Homo sapiens: one gene and its partners. The protein of the gene in region 1 interacts with the protein of each later gene in a pairwise test. Each region holds a gene or a part of one and is shown in the gene's direction. Other genes may lie near its edges. The genes, in order: LGALS3, CRX and PPIG.

The links.
Region 2: the proteins of LGALS3 (region 1) and CRX interact in binary tests that used the Homo sapiens proteins (3 or more experiments, as listed by UniProt).
Region 3: the proteins of LGALS3 (region 1) and PPIG interact in binary tests that used the Homo sapiens proteins (3 or more experiments, as listed by UniProt).

Annotation. Positions count from the first base shown.
Region 1 is NC_000014.9:55,142,481-55,145,970, forward strand, and holds the end of LGALS3 (galectin-3), read left to right. Parts: intron 1-103; coding exon 104-269; intron 270-2,635; coding exon 2,636-2,791; 3' UTR 2,792-2,943; downstream 2,944-3,490. UniProt on the Homo sapiens protein: Galactose-specific lectin which binds IgE. May mediate with the alpha-3, beta-1 integrin the stimulation by CSPG4 of endothelial cells migration.
Region 2 is NC_000019.10:47,831,933-47,835,586, forward strand, and holds part of CRX (cone-rod homeobox protein), read left to right. Parts: intron 1-2,476; 5' UTR 2,477-2,511; coding exon 2,512-2,611; intron 2,612-3,654. UniProt on the Homo sapiens protein: Transcription factor that binds and transactivates the sequence 5'-TAATC[CA]-3' which is found upstream of several photoreceptor-specific genes, including the opsin genes.
Region 3 is NC_000002.12:169,590,827-169,594,480, forward strand, and holds part of PPIG (peptidyl-prolyl cis-trans isomerase G), read left to right. Parts: intron 1-3,654. UniProt on the Homo sapiens protein: PPIase that catalyzes the cis-trans isomerization of proline imidic peptide bonds in oligopeptides and may therefore assist protein folding. May be implicated in the folding, transport, and assembly of proteins.

The DNA of each region.
Region 1 (3,490 bases):
CTGTATTATGAAATTATTTGCTTTTTAGAAAATTACATGTTCTTTACACAGTGCAAATGTACAGCTTTAATCATTTTAATAACTGGTCTTTGGTTTAAAACAGAATTGCTTTAGATTTCCAAAGAGGGAATGATGTTGCCTTCCACTTTAACCCACGCTTCAATGAGAACAACAGGAGAGTCATTGTTTGCAATACAAAGCTGGATAATAACTGGGGAAGGGAAGAAAGACAGTCGGTTTTCCCATTTGAAAGTGGGAAACCATTCAAAGTAAGTTATTGCTACTATTATATATTGATAATGTATATTTCTCATGAGGAATCACTCTAAAACCCCAAAGCACTTGAAGTGAGAGTTTTTATCACCTCTCCTAAGGTGCCTAACCAGTTTATCTTCTCCCTGCCCAGGGGACCAGGCTCAGCAGGCTGAGAACATGGCCAGGAGTGGCACACTCCCCAGTTCCTTTCAGGCACCTCTCCATCATCACTGCTGCCACCCCTCTGAGTTTAAGCCTTTCTAGAAATGAAAAGAATATAATCTTTAACAAAAAAGGCAAAAAGTCTTTATGGTACAGTTATACTGCGACTTTGTTGCTTAAAACACAGTTGGCAGAGAGATGAAAACTAAAGGTTTTTTATTCTAAAATTAAAGTTTTATGAAAAGTTTATAAATTTTTAAATTAACAAAGTTTCCTATCTTTTACTCCTTCCCCCATCCTCACAAAGTTGCAATTCGATGAGTATCTTCCCAGTATTTTCTGACATACAGCACGCTTTTTATTTGTAAGCACTGCTTCAACAAATTAGATCCACAGCATTTAGGGTTGACTATAGAGTGGTGAATAAAACAGCTGGAGTGTAAACTCTTCAACAACAGGGACAAATAAGGACCACAGTCTACATTTGGTGGATATCTTTTCGTATCAGAATATTGTTACTTAATAGCACTTTTTTTTTTTTTCGAGACAGAGTCTCGCTCTGTCGCCAGGCTGGAGTACAGTGGCACGATCTTGGCTCACTACAACCTCCGCCTCCTGGGTTCAAGCGATGCTCCTGCCTCAGCCTCCCAAGTAGCTGGGATTATAGGCGTGCGCTACCATGCCCAGCTAACTTTTGTATTTTCTGTAGAGACGGGGTTTCACCATGTTGGCCAGGATGGTCTTGATCTCTTGACCTCGTGATCCGCCCACCTCAGCTTCCCAAAGTGCTGGGAGGATTACAGGCATGAGCCACCATGCCTGGCCAGTAGTATTTCATTTTTAGATATGTGATAATTTAACCAGTACCCTACTGATGAAAATTTACAGAATAGAAACACTCCAACCTGGAAAGATTTTACTAAAATACTGTAATAACTATCCTTACAAATCTTTGCTTCCTAGAAGCAAGTCTTCTAGAAATCTTTGCTTCCTAGAAGCAAGTCTTCTAGAAATCTTTGCTTCCTAGAAGCAAGTCTTCTAGAAATCTTTGCTTTAAATATACATGTTTACAATTTAGATATTGTCAAATTGCTGCTTCCAAAAAGATATAGGAATGAACATCCACTATTGGGAAGAGTAGATTTCTCCTACCCTTGCCAAAACTGATTATCATCAATCCTTACAACATTTGCCAGAGGAATCCTATTTTCGTGTTTTTCTTTTAGGTGTTTTAGACCATATCAGAACTTTTGGTTGTTTTGAGACAGGGTCTCACACTGTCACTCAGGCTGGAGTACAGTGGCATGGTCACAGCTCATTGCAGCCTGTCAACCTCCCAGGCTCAAACGATCCTCCCACTTGAGCCTCCTTAGTAGCGGAGACCACAGATGTATGCCACCCACGTGTGGCTAATTTTTGTATTTTTCTTGTAGAGATGGGATTTCACCATGTTGCCTGGGCTGGTCTCAAACTCCTGGGCTCAAGATCCGCCCGCCTTTGCCTCCCAAAGTGTTGGGATTACAGGCGTGAGCCACCACACCCAGGCTCTTTTAAGTTTTTATGCAGGCAAATCTTTAGCCTCCACCTTTATGGCTTCACTTATGTATCCTTCTAATAAATTTGCTGCTTTAAAAAAAAAACCTGAATAACTTGGAATTTTTTTGTTGTTGCTTTTTGTTTTTTTGAGACGGAGTCTCACTCTTTCGCCCAGGCTGGAGTGCAGTGGCACTATCTCGGCTAACTTCAAGCTCCGCCTCCTGGGTTCATGCCATTCTCCTGCCTCAGCCTCCCAAGTAGCTGGGACTACAAGGTGCCCGCCACCACAATCAGCTAATTTTTTGTATTTTCAGTAGAGATGGGGTTTCACTGTGTTAGCCAGGATGGTCTCGATCTCCTGACCTTGTGATCCACCCGCCTCAGCCTCCCAAAGTGCTGGGATTACAGGCGTGAGCCACCCCGCCCAGCATAACTTGGCATTTTTGCTGTAAAGTTACTTTCTCTGGATCTTAACTGGTCCCACAAATGATAAGGATGAAATGTTGGACATCCTGGGCTCAGGCCAGACTGGTTTGAAATTAATGGACATTTTTTCCCTTTATTTCAGTTGACAAAAAATTGTTTCTATAGTGCAGATGAAATATGTATATATTGTGGAATGCCTAAATCCAGCTGACATATGCATTACCTCATGTAACAGTTTATGTATATGCCATTTCAGATACAAGTACTGGTTGAACCTGACCACTTCAAGGTTGCAGTGAATGATGCTCACTTGTTGCAGTACAATCATCGGGTTAAAAAACTCAATGAAATCAGCAAACTGGGAATTTCTGGTGACATAGACCTCACCAGTGCTTCATATACCATGATATAATCTGAAAGGGGCAGATTAAAAAAAAAAAAAGAATCTAAACCTTACATGTGTAAAGGTTTCATGTTCACTGTGAGTGAAAATTTTTACATTCATCAATATCCCTCTTGTAAGTCATCTACTTAATAAATATTACAGTGAATTACCTGTCTCAATATGTCATTTAATTGGAGTGGTTTATTCTAGATAATGCACAATGGAAAAAATATGTAGCAATATTAATACTGCATTGGGGCCTCAAGGTTTCCTATACTTGTTAAAATATTTTTCTTAAGGAGAAAGTAAATATTACCACAAAATTATCTCTTCCAGAATTTCATAAAAATCAGCTGTTTCAAGAAAATTATTCTCTCATTTTCTTAAGGAAATATAACATGTTCAGGAAATCAGAATAGCATTAAGAAAAAGTTAACCTATAGATGACCTATGACCCATAGACAATTATTGTTAGGATTCTGGTATATTTCTTGACGGCTTTTTAATCCTATTTTCTCCTTCTATAGTTCACTGCTTTCAAATCAGTAATTTGATACCAATATAGGACCATCTCCCTGGTTTTTATGAAATCTCTTATGGAGAAAAAGGTATCTTATATAGTCGGCTTTCAAAATTTAATTGTTCCCATCGTCAACATTCTTGCCCATGCCTTTCTACCCTTATTAGCAGCAAGCCCAAAGATTAATAAAATTCCAAAACTAGGAT
Region 2 (3,654 bases), on another chromosome or scaffold:
TTCACCATGTTGGCCAGGCTGGTCTCGAACTCCCGACCTCAGGTGATCCGCCTGCTTTGGCCTCCCAAAGTGCTGGGATTGCAGATGTGAGCCACCACACCTGGCCCCTAGAACAATTTTTTAAAACTATATAATGGAGATCTTTTAAAATCAGTTCAGAGAGCAGCCTTATGTTTTTTTTTTTTTTTTTTGAGACGGAGTCTCGCTCTGTCGCCCAAGCTGGAGTGCAGTGGCTTGATCTTGGCTCATTGCAACTTCTGCCTCCCGGGTTCAAGCGATTCTCCTGCCTCAGCCTCCCGAGTAGCTGGGATTACAGGCACGCGCCACCATGCCCGGCTAATTTTTGTATTTTCTGCAGAGACGGGGTTTCACCATGTTGGCCAGGCTGGTCTCGAACTTCTGACCTCTGGTGATCTGCCTGCCTTGGCCTCCCAAAGTGCTGAAATTACAGGCATGAGCCACTGCGCCCAGGCTTACTTTAAAAAAAAAATTAATTTTTTGTAGAGACAGGAGAGTTTCGCTATGTTGCCACCTGAACATAAATGCTATTTTCTTTTTCTTTTCTTTTCTTTTTTTTGAGACGGAGTCCGTAGCCCAGGCTGGGGTGTGGTGGCACCATTTTGGCTCACTACAGCCTCCGCCTCCCAGGTTCAAGCGATTCTCCTGCCTCAGCCTCCCAAGTAGCTGGGACTACAGGCGTGCACCCCTGTGCCCAGCTAATTTTTGTATTTTTAGTAGAGACGGGGTTTCACCATGTTGACCAGGCTAATCTCAAACTCCTGACCTCAAGTGATCTGCCTGCCTTGGTCTCCCAAAGTGCTGGGATTACAGGTGTGAGCCACTGCGCCTGGCCCATAAATGCGATTTTCATTCCCATTTTCCAACAAGGCGACTGAGGTATACATTGAAGGTGAATTACTAGGACAAAAGAAAGATGGCATTTTACTTCAATAACAGTTTGTTACAACCTGTACTGCTACCTATCTGCCATGGGAGTGTGCCTTTCCCCACACTGACACCAGTGCTGGAAGTTATCAACCTCCTTCATCTTTGCCAACCTGATAGGTCAAAAGTGATCATGGAAGATCCACACTCGCTTTTTTTTTTTTTTTTTTTTTGAGATAGGGGTCTATTTCTTTTTCTTTTTTCAGAGATGGGGGGTCTCACTATTTCTTTTTCTTTTTTTCAGAGATGGGGGTCTCACTATGTTGCCTAGGCTGGTTTTGAACTTCTGGGCTCAAGTGATTCTCCTGCCTTGACCTCCCAAAGTGCTGGGATTACAGGTGTGAGCCGCCTTGCTTAGCCCTTACTGTCGTTTTTTTGTTTGTTTTTGTTTTTGTTTTTTTGTTTTGTTTTGTTTTGTTTTTGAGACAGAGTCTCGCTCTGTCGCCCAGGCTGGAGTGCGGTGGTGCGATCTTGGCTCACTGCAACCTCTGCCTCCCGGGTTCCAGTGATTCTCCTGCCTCAGCCTCCCAAGTAGCTGGGATTACAGGCACCCGCCACCACACCTGGCTAATTTTTGTATTTTTAATAGAGATGGGGTTTCACCATGTTGGCCAGGCTGGTCTTGAACTTCTGACCTTAGGTGATCCATCCATCTCAGCCTCCCAAAGTGCTGGGATTACAGGCGTGAGCCACCTTGCCTGGCCCTTACTGTTGGTTTAATGCCACTCTCCCTTAGGGTGACCAACCAATCCAGTTTGCCTGGGACCATTCTGGCTCTAGCACTGAAAGTCCTGTGTTCCAAGAAACACCCACCTCTCCTCCAACCTGGGCAAAGAGGGACGGTTGGTCAACCTGCAGTCCTGGGTTATAAGTGAGGCTGAGCGTGTTTGCCCATGGTCAAGAAAGAAGGGATCTTGGATGAGGGTGTGTAACAGGATCAGATTTGTTTTGTTTTTTTCTTAGAGTCTTGCTGTGTCACCCAGGCTGGAGTGCAATGGCCTGAACACAGCTCACTGCAGCCCCAAACTCCTGGGCTCAAGTGATCCTCCCACCTCAGCCTCCTGGGTAGCTGGGATTACAGGCATGCATCACCACACCCAGTTAACTTTTTAAAGAACACTTTTTTTTTTTTTTTAAGAGACAGGGTCTTGCTATGTTGCTCAGGCTGGTCTCAAACTCCTGGGCTCAAGTGATCCTCCCGCCTTGGCCTCCCAAAGTGCTGGGATGACAGATGTGAGCCATTGTGCCTAGCCAGGACGAGATTTTTAGAGGGTAGAGTAGGAATAAGAGCTTGCACTTATGAGGCACATGATGGCTTCAGCTGTCTGCTTTGCAGAGTCTCAAGAAAGCTCTGAGAACCTTAAGCAGAGGCCATTTTACATGTGAGGACACAGAGGTACAGAGAGGTGAGATAAATGGCCAAGGTCACATACCTAAGAGGAGAAGGAGGCAGGATTTGAATCGCAGCCTGCACGTCACCCCATGGTGAGTAACTGGTAAGTGAGTGAGCATCCCTCCTCTTCTCTTGCAGGCCCCCTGACTTGGGCCTCAGTGTCCCCGAAGATCATGATGGCGTATATGAACCCGGGGCCCCACTATTCTGTCAACGCCTTGGCCCTAAGTGGCCCCAGTGTGGATCTGATGCACCAGGCTGTGCCCTACCCAAGTGAGTACAGTCGTTTCTCTTGGCACCCCAGGCTGGCCTCATCTCTTGGAGGACCTCTGGGGTCCCTTTGCCCCCAGGAAGAAGGCAATCACAGGGGCGACTTCAGGGCCATACACCAGCCCTCTGGGTTCATCTGAAATGTATGTCACTTAGAAAAACATTAGCAGTCCTAGAAATTCAGGACAGAGGTTCCTTTTGGGGTGAGGAAGAGGGGATGTAATCTGGAAGGGGAATCAAGAGGAATTTTCATCTGTTACCAAAACTTTATTATTTATTTATTTTTCAGAGACAAGGTCTCACACTCTGTCACCCAGGCTGGAGTGCAGTGGTGGTGGTCACGGCTCACTGCAGCCTCGAACTCCTGGGCTCAAGCAATCCTCCCACCTCAGCCTCCTGAGTAGCTGGGACTGCAGGTGTGAGCCATTGTGCCTAGGCCCGGGGGGCACTTTTTTTTTTTAATTTTATTTTTGAGACAGGGTCTCACTCTGTTGCCCACTCTGAAGTGCAATGGTGCAATCACAGCTCACTACAGCCTCGAACTCCTGGGCTCAAGCGATCCTTTTGCCTTGGCCTCCCAAATAGCTAGGATTACAGGTGCACGCCACCATGCCTGGCTAACTTTTTTAAGTTTTTGTAGATTTTGCAGGATCTGGATTATACAAAACATAGAAAAAATTATTATTATTTTTTTTTTTGTAGAGATTGGGTCTCCCTATGTTGCCCAGGCTGGTCTCAAACTCTTGGGTCCAAATAATCCGCCTGACTCAGCCTCCCAAAGTGCTGGGATTACAGGCATGAGCCACTGCACCTGGCCTGCAAAGCCTTATTTCTTTTTCTTTTTTTTTCTTTCGAGACACAGTTTAGACGGAGTTTCGCTCCTGCCCAGGCTGGAGTGCAATGGCGCGATCTTGGCTCTTTGCAACTTTTGCCTCCCAGGTTCAAGTGATTCTCCTGCCTCAGCCTCCCAAGTAGCTGGGATTACAGGCGCACACCACCATGCCCGGCCAATTTTTGTAAAGCCTTATTTTTAAGAGAAGTGAGTA
Region 3 (3,654 bases), on another chromosome or scaffold:
GGCAATATATCCACAAAAAAATTTTTAAAAATTAGCTGGAGGTGGTGGCTCACGCCTTTAGTCCCAGCTACTCGGGAGGCTGAGGTAGGAGGATTGCTTGAGCCACTGCGTTCCAGGCTGCGGTGAGCTGTGATCTTACCACTGTGCTCCAGCCTGAGCGGCATAGCGAGACCCTGTCTCTAAAAATAGAAATAATTTACTTTGTATTTTTTCTAGATTAGAAACTCGGTGCTATGCTGACTTCCTCATAATGTGTGAAACTTCCAAATAACTTTAAAATATAATAAAGTTACCATATGCCTACTTATAAATGCCATGTCCGCTACTATATATTTTAATAATTAGTTGCCTATATTTTTGTCCTGTTTTTCATTTAGTCATGTTATTTTAGGATTAATATGGAAAATAGTTTATGTATGAAACTACAAGGATAAATTTTTTTACACATGAACTGGTTACCTCTTACTGATTTTTTTATGAAATGTGTTTGTTGCAGAAGTTTATAAATGATAGCACTGTGATATTTTTAAATTGTATTACCTTATTATTGAAATACAAAAGTGACTATATTGTTGATAAATATTAAAAATAACTTTAATCACCTGCATAGGAAAAACAAGAATATAATAAAAGTATTAAAAGCTATAGCTAAGTTTTAGAATTTTGTGCATTTTGTATGATTAATTTTTTTCAGTGAGCTTATTAGCTTTATTGCTTATCTTATTAAAAATGTGTTTTCATTATGATGAAAAAAGTAGATTCAGTATATTATACTTAAATTTCTGAAGGAGTCAAGCAGGTGAGGTAAGTACATGAGGTCAAGTAGACAATAAATTTTAACAGCTAATAAGCAATAGCTAGAATTAGGTCAAACTAGAACATATATATGTCATCTGTTGGGAGCAGACTATGCTGATTGCTGTGTAGAAATGGGGCACAGTGCCACATATTGTGATTTTTTTTTTTCCAAGAAAAATTTGTCTGGATTTTAGCTGTAGTTCATACTAAACAAATTTGCAGCAAACAAATCACCCACAGATTACTACTACACTGAAAATTTTGATTATATTCTAGTATTTTTAGGCAATTCATGATTTTTTTTTTTTTTTTTTTTTTTTTGAACAGAGTCTCACTCTGTTGGCCAGGCTGGAGTGTAGTGGCATGATGACTGCTCGCTGCAACCTCAACTTCCTGGGCTCAAATGATCCTCCCACCGCAGCCTCCCAAGTAGCTGGGACCACAGGCCTGGGTCATCACACCCAGCTAATTGTCATTTTTTTTTTAATAGAGATGGGGTCTTGCTGTTGCCCAGGCTGGTCATGGATATTTTATTTAAAATTGTAAGGGCTTAATTTTCCCCTGAATCATGTTTTTGGTATCTCCTAGCATTATTTTTTCTCTTTACTTTTACTTGAAAAAAAATGAAAAATTGACCAGATGTTTGTCTTACTGCATCTGGTTTCAGATGTCTTTTTTCTTTTTTTTTTTTTTTTTTTGAGATGGAGTCTCGCTCTGTCACCCAGGCTGGAGTGCAGTGGCGCGAACTCTGCTCACTGCAAGCTCCGCCTCCCGGGTTCACGCCATTCTCCTGCCTCAGCCTCCAGAGTAGCTGGGACTACAGGCGCCCACCACCACGCCCAACTAATTTTTTGTATTTTTAGGGGAGACGGGGTTTCACCATGTTAGCCAGGATGGTCTCAATCTCCTGGCCTTGTGATCCGCACGCCTCGGCCTCCCAGAGTGCTGGGATTATAGGCGTGAGCCACCGTGCCTGGCTCAGATTTCTTTTTTCTAATAGAGATGCGTTCTCATTATGTTGACCAGGCTGGTCTTGAACTCCTGGGCTCAAGTGATCCTCCTCCCTTCGCCCCTCAAAGTGCTGGGATTACGGGTGTGAACCACCGTGATTTCAGGTATTATTTAATAATCGAGGAAATCATAATTATAGAGGAAATAGGATATACTGTTTCTGATTAGTAATTAGTAACTTTTTATAATGATTAGTAATTAGTAGCATTTCAGTAATGTTAGCGACACAGCATGTGAGCCATCTTTTGTTGTCACCATTGTTTTTCATTAGCTGCTAATATTAAAACATTTACATATTCAAGGGATTTGTGTAGTAATTTTAATAGTAATTTGCTGCCTTTCATCTTTCTTGCATTTGAGGCATATGTGATTTGTCATTTCAGGAAAACTAATCAATTTCTATGAAGAGTGTATCCTTGAGTGATAGACTCTGAATACATCTTATAGCCATTTCCACACATGTACATTATAATGTTAGAAGACTGTGTGTGTATATATATATATATATCTTAGGAATTTTTTCTTTATAATAGCAGTACATTTATTATTTATTTTATTTATTTATTTATTTATTTTGAGACAGAGTCTTGCTCTTGTCGTCCAGGGTGGAGTGCAATGGCACAATCTCAGCTCACTGCAACCTCTGCCTCCTGGGCTCAAGTGATTCTCCTGCCTCAGCCTCCCAAGTAACTGGAATTACAGACACCCACCACCATGCCCGGCTATTTTTTTGTATTTTTAGTAGAGATGGGGTTTCACCACATTGGTCAGGCTGGTCATGAACTCCTGACCTCAGGTGATCTACCCGCCTTGGCCTCCCAAAGTAGCAGTACATTTATTAAAGAAAACTAGAAAGAAGTAGTGAGGCAAAAGCCCTCTCCAGTCTTACAGACACACACAATAATGATTTATTTCCTTTCACTCTTTTTTTGTCTTCTTGTAAGTCTTTGCCTGAGCTTGAAGGTCGGGAGTAGTTTACACAATCATCATTATGTTGCATATGCTGCTTTATATCTTTTTTTTTTTTTTTTTTTGAGACGGAGTCTCATTCTGTCACCCAGGTTGGAGTGCAGTGGCGTGATCTCGGCTCACTGCAAGCTTCACCTCCCAGGTTCACGCCATTCTCCTGCCTCAGCCTCCAGGTGGGACTACAGGCGCCCGCCACCATGCCCGGCTAATTTTTTTTTTTTTTTGTATTTTTAGTAGAGACGGGGTTTCACCATGTTAGCCAGGATGATCTCGATCTCCTGACCTTGTGATCTGCCTGCCTCGGGCTCCCAAAGTGCTGCGATTACAGGTGTGAGCCACCACGCCCGGCCCACTGTTTTATATCTTGATTATTTTTCCAAATTATTAATCTTCATAAGCATTGCTTTAATTATTGTTGAACCAGAGACAATTTCACTTTTTTGTGATATTATGATAGGTTGCTTTTGATTATATGTTGCTAAAAAGAGCACCAGCGTAGCCAACTTTATACCTGAAGGCTTTCTGAATTTAGAGTAGTTCCTCATAATAGATTTCCAACAGTTGAATTTTACTGGTTCAAAGTATAAACACTTATGAATTTCTCATATTCTTAAATTTCAAAGGAGTTGTATATGATCACTAGTAGTAGTATAAATTCCTGTTTCCATTTGTACATGTGTTGAGAGTTATTCTTTTAAAAGATCTTTGCTGTTGATAGGCAAAAAAAAAAAAACGCATTTTATTAGTACTTTTTTAAAAATAATTGTTTCCTGATTACGAAATTGAAGAAAAATTGGAAAACAAATACATTAAAAATTACCCTTAAACCCATGGCCCACACATGATGATTGCTAACATTATGGTGTAAATCCTGTC